Linked DNA regions of Homo sapiens: region 2 is linked to region 1. A link means that fine-mapping ties the variant in region 1 to the expression of a gene that starts in the linked region. Tissue or cell type: lymphoblastoid cells. Region 1 holds a variant in brackets; the other region holds the start of a gene. All regions are shown on one strand. Distances are from middle to middle. Region 1 overlaps SSR3 (signal sequence receptor subunit 3). Region 2 holds the start of KCNAB1 (potassium voltage-gated channel subfamily A regulatory beta subunit 1).

The links. PIP is the estimated chance that this variant, and not a neighbour inherited with it, causes the effect.
Region 2: KCNAB1 starts here. The variant in region 1 is the best candidate, but not a certain one, in a credible set for the expression of KCNAB1 in lymphoblastoid cells (GEUVADIS, PIP 0.54).

The regions. Positions count from the first base shown.
Region 1 is chr3:156,540,459-156,542,958 of GRCh38, forward strand. SSR3 (signal sequence receptor subunit 3) reads right to left here. Exons shown (of 5, transcript NM_007107.5): 5 at 1-2,500. Among named protein-coding and RNA genes, the nearest start is that of SSR3, 13 kb to the right of the region's middle. The variant G/A (reference allele first, on the strand shown) is at 1,238.
Region 2 is chr3:156,118,812-156,121,843 of GRCh38, forward strand. It overlaps KCNAB1 (potassium voltage-gated channel subfamily A regulatory beta subunit 1), which reads left to right and starts at 1,767. Exons shown (of 14, transcript NM_172160.3): 1 at 1,767-2,075. The coding sequence starts at 1,801.

The sequences.
Region 1 (2,500 bases):
AGCCGGGTGTGGTGGCGGGCGCCTGTAGTCCCAGCTACTCGGCAGGCTGAGGCAGGAGAATGGCGTGAACCTGGGAGGCGGAGCTCGCAGTGAGCCAAGATAGAGCCACTGTACTCCAGCCTGGGTGACAGAGCGAGACGCTGTCTCAAAAAAAAAAAAAAAAAAAAAAGAATATCAATCCAAGATTTTTATTAAGTTAAAATGAAGGAACTAAAAATAGGTAAATGAAAATGTTATAACACTTTAGTGCTATTTATGAGTATGAACAAAGGAATTTAATCACTTTGAATCCCAATTACAGATGAATCTTTTATTTCATGGGTGCTGGGTATGTGGTCTTTTTAAGACAAAAATTCTACAGCATGGTTTTACTAAGTCAGATTGAGTAGGTCGCATCTCTGTGTGCCACACAGAACTTTTAGACAAGAGTAGAGGGGAAAAGGTTCTGCAATTCCTCACAGTAAAGTACTCACACAGTAAATCCTTAACGAAAACTACTGAACTGTGAGTATATGCTTTATAATCTTATGCACAGAAATGTATCTATTAGTACAGAAAGTTGGAAAACATCAAGATTAAAAACAGTGCTGTAGGAAAAATTCACAACAGTAAACAAATTTTGCTCACTCATTTTCCTACAAATCTTCAGTTTATTAATTCAAGAGAAACTATATTAGGAATATTCGGCTGATACCCCTATTTCACCACCTCATCTAAGCTACACTGTATTATACCAAGAATGGTGGCAATTTTTTCCCCATCTATACAGGCACTGCCATCTAGTGGCAAGTTTTCACCAGCAATTTTAAAAGATAGTGGCCCAACTCTGGTAACAAATAGTGGACACTGATGGTTTGTCAAATAAGCAAATGCATTTATTTGATACACAAATTCCATGCCACCAGTCAAACTATGGTCTGGCTTTTTTTTTTAACCAACAGTAAAGAAAACTTTTTGGGTTTTTTTGTTTCTTTTTTGAGATGGAGTCTCACCCTTGCCACCCAGGCAGTAGTAGCACGATCTCGACTCACCGCAACCTCTGCCTCCTGGGTTCAGGCAGTTCTCCTGCTTCAGCCTCCCAAGTAGCTGAGATTACAGGCGCCCACCATCACGCCTGGCTAATTTTGGTATTTTTAGTAGAGACGGGGTTTCACCATGTTGGCCAGGAGTTCAAGAAAAGTTTTTTAAAAATAATAAACCTCTAAAGTGTTACCCTAACTGTACCTTACAGTGATAT[G/A]TGACTTCTCTAGTCACTCCACATTATCCAGTGATGGCACCTAGATAATAATGCACCAAAGAAAAGTAAAGAATTGCAGACTTCTAGAAGCAATGATGAAATATAATTCTCAGTTGCAGAAAATGATGATCTGGGTCATTATGCAAATGCATTCCTGCCTGTTTTTCTTCCAAGTTCTTGCATGGAGCCCAACACATCCGATAGCATGGAAGTGGAAGTTAAACTCCCGATGAATAATTTTTATAAAATTATAAAGAAAACAACTAATAACATGTATGAAATTCACATTAAATTTAGAAGTGGATAGTAAAGATTAGGACTATATTTCCTTTGGGGTGCTGCTTGTAGGAAATTACTGAATGACAACTGCTATCACCTGTGATTTCATATCCTTTTAGCTGATATTGCTAAAGAGCTTCCCAAACTTTTTCAAGTCATGGCATACACAAGAAATGATATCTGTACATACACGGGTAAAAAAATGCAAGAGATTGCTCTCAGCTGGATCCCCAAGGGCTAAAGAGATAAATATCTTGCTCACAATCAATGGGAACCTGTGAACTAAAGAGTCAAATGTATGAAAGTCCTCATGGAAAAATGCTGACAAGCACTAAAATCACTGTAAATTCCTTGGAGAGTTCTCAGAATTGCAGAAGTTCAGAAAAATTACTTTGGTCTTTTACATGTCAATATTCAGGAAAGAGGTTCTTTCTCTTACTTAACATTCCTCCAGGGTGTGAGACCCTGGTCAAGGAAAACAGTGATTCCTGTGTCTTAGTAAGTCAAACCAACATGGCAGGGTCAAGTTGACCTCCCTGGCCACTCAGGGCCAAAGCCATACAGTGGAACAGTGTGTTCTTTAACCTCGTAGGACAACTCTCATATGCCTGGGCACTATTTTTAGGTTACTACCTTGGCTGCCCTTCTTTAAGAAAAAAAAAAGAAAAAAAAAGAACTTTTCCACAAGTTTCTCTTCCTCTAGTTGGAAAATTAGAGAAATCATGTTTTTAATTTTGTGTTATTTCAGATCACAAATTCAAACACTTGTAAACATTAAGCTTCTGTTCAATCCCCTGGGAAGAGGATTCATTCTGATATTTACGGTTCAAAAGAAGTTGTAATATTGTGCTTGGAACACAGAGAACCAGTTATTAACTTCCTACTACTATTATATAATAAATAATAACAGCTCGGCCCAGGTTACTGTGACCTCTGACAGATCAAGGAAACAAGTTATTTTCTCCTCTTGTGATTACAGCACAT
Region 2 (3,032 bases), 420 kb before region 1:
AAACTGGGGTGATTATCTCCAGTCTACACTTCGGGGAGTCTAGTTGCTATGCATATAATGTTGCCAGAACTCCTCAATGACTCAAGGGATGGGAGCAAAGAGAGTAGTTGAAGAGGCTGTCGCCTGCTGGTGCTAAAAGTTCCTAAGACCCCACAGCATCAGATGGGACTGACCCTGCTAGTTGGTATCAGTTGCCTCCTTTGATACATGCTTCAGGCTGCACATTACTTGGTGGTTACAGTTCTAACCCTAGACTATCCTGGACAGTAATATCAAACAGGTTTCACCCAAATGTGCAAGAGCCCACATGGCTGTTAATTGGTTAATATTGATATTGGTTAATTAACAGCCATAGGGATCCTCAAAGACCTTTGGCAGGTCTTTGAGAGTGACAGTGGACTAAGGGCAAGTGAAAGGGGGCAAGGCGTACATTAAAGGAAGCAAGATAATCCAAGACAGCAGTAGATGACTTGTTACCAAGCCATGTGACCGAGGTGACCACATTAGTTCAGATAGTAAAGGGATGAGAATAGCAGTGAAGGAAATTCTTCCTCCATACCGTGGTGGCAGAGGAGGCCTTATGACAGCCTATTGACAGACTTTCCAAAAGAGCTAACTGCACTTTCCTATCTCTTTAAGAAGGCATGCTTCTTTCCTCCTTCCTCTCCTGCTCTTCTCAGGGACTCTAAGGACTTGCTATAACTCTACAATTTTTAACTTACGGTTTTGTCATGGAAAGAAAAATACATGCACCTTCCCAAGTTCTTTACATGCAGCAGGCACTGAGATAGTTGATCCAGAAGAGACTTAAGTTGATTGAGGGGGAGGGTGCCTGGTGCTTAACGGGTCACTAAACAACTCTGTGATAGACCCCTAGGTGGACACTGACATCATTATCTCCTAAACTAAAACAGAGTGAGATCCATGGGTGTGTGTGGGTCAACCCCATGCATCTTAACCATAGGGCCATCAGCTTGGCTTTCTTTGTTTCTCCCAAACTAGTTTTCATGTACACTGGGCACACACATACACATCCATGCACATACAGGCTCCCACCATTCCCTCCCACTCTTCTGTTTTTTCACACCAGTTTTGGCCTTCACCTTCCCAATTATCAGATGATTCTCATGGCTTCTATTTGTCAGAAGTGCTGGGAGGGGCAGTTACTGAATCGGTTATGAGGGATTACCATTCTCACATTAGGAATGAAAGAGTGCCTGACATACGTTATGTGGTTCACTGACATTCAAAGAAATATAAAATAAATTTAAAATGTTCAGGTTTGCACAAGAGAAATAATCTTTCCCTTGCATTGATACTGTTGAACTTATTTGAGGAAATTCACATTAAAACTTTTAAAACTCCAAAGGGACTCTAATCAGGAATGGCTAATGAGCCTCCAGAAATCTTTTATAACTCTAACATGATTATCGAATGTAATTTACCAAACCTATATGACCAAAAGTTCAGAGTTGTCACTATTAAATAAAGCAAAAGTCCTAACTTTGCGGAAGAAACAGCCACTGCCAAACTTCAGTATTACAAAGTTGTTGGGAGTTGTTTTTAAAATTTCCGTGTTCGAAGATACCACAGGTATTGGCCAGCTTACCTCTTCACTAGGAAAGGTTAGAGATACATTTTCATCCCAAGCCACAGACTGGGCTCAATTACAGCTTTGTGGCAGGATAAGGTTAAGAGAGGTGGAGTGGGCAGGGACGAGGGAGGGAGGCAGAAGCAGAAAAATCAATTCAGATTACTTTGATGACAGTGACTTCCAGTCTTCTCTGAAAGATCTCCACGATGCTGGCAGCCCGGACAGGGGCAGCGGGGAGTCAGATCTCAGAGGAGAACACCAAGTTAAGGAGACAGTCTGGGTTTTCTGTAGCAGGGAAAGACAAATCTCCCAAGAAAGCCTCAGAAAACGCTAAAGACAGCAGCCTTAGTCCCTCAGGGGAAAGCCAGCTCAGGGCGCGTCAACTGGCTCTGCTGCGCGAAGTGGAGATGAACTGGTACCTAAAGCTCTGCGACCTGTCCAGCGAGCACACCACCGTCTGCACCACAGGCATGCCGCACAGGTAAGCTGCCCCTGCTCTGCGCGGGCTTTGGGAGACGCCGTTCGAAGGTGCTCTGGAGAATGCTTTGATTTCTTTTCCTCTGCAGCTGGAAGTCTTAACGGCTCTAATTGCCTTAGAGATGATTGGCACTTCAGAATGTGTAACCACAAAGAGCAGGATCTTGGTGCAAATGGCAAATAATGTTCCCTGCATTGTTATTCAGAAAAGACCTCTTACAAGGAGGCAGTAGATGCTTAGGAGCTGACAGGACAAAAGAGCATTATGATTTTTCTTAAGTAAAAATCAGAGGAGTTAAGAGATGGTAGGAAAGTGCTCCCTTCCAAAATAACTACAAAAAAGAGTTTGCAATCTTTCAGCATTTCCTTTGCTCTGAGAACTTGGGGATGAGGGAAGAACATTTGTTTTGCCTGGTTGAAAAGTGGAGTTGAGTAGTGTGAACTTGTTGAATGAGGGGTCAGGCTGGCCATAGGGATGCAGAATGGGACATATTGACCACCAATATAGGGATCTGAGCCCCGTGTCTAAGACAGATAACATCAGGAGAAAAAGGTAACTTTTAAAAAAGAGATAAATGTAAGGCAAATCTCTATGGGTTTTCTTTCTGTTCTTTACTCAGCCTCAGCTTCAAATAAAGCAGAGGAAGGATAATTTCACAAATCCCAGTGTTCCAAGGCAAAACGTACTGAGTAAAAAGTGTCTGGAGTCCTGAAATTTAAGGATGCTTATTTTCTATAATTTGTGCAAAAAATCTCTTAGGAATTAAAGATAATTTTGGAAGAAAAAATACTGTGAAAATAATACCTAGAATAGCTATGTTATTAAATGGTAATAAAAATTCCTTTGAGATGAAAAATGGTTCCAATTACGTAGTCAAAGTATGGAAAACTCCTTTTGTAGAGACTGTATGGTAGCACTGAAATTCTGCAATGCAGCCTGTATCAAAGCATCCAGTGCACT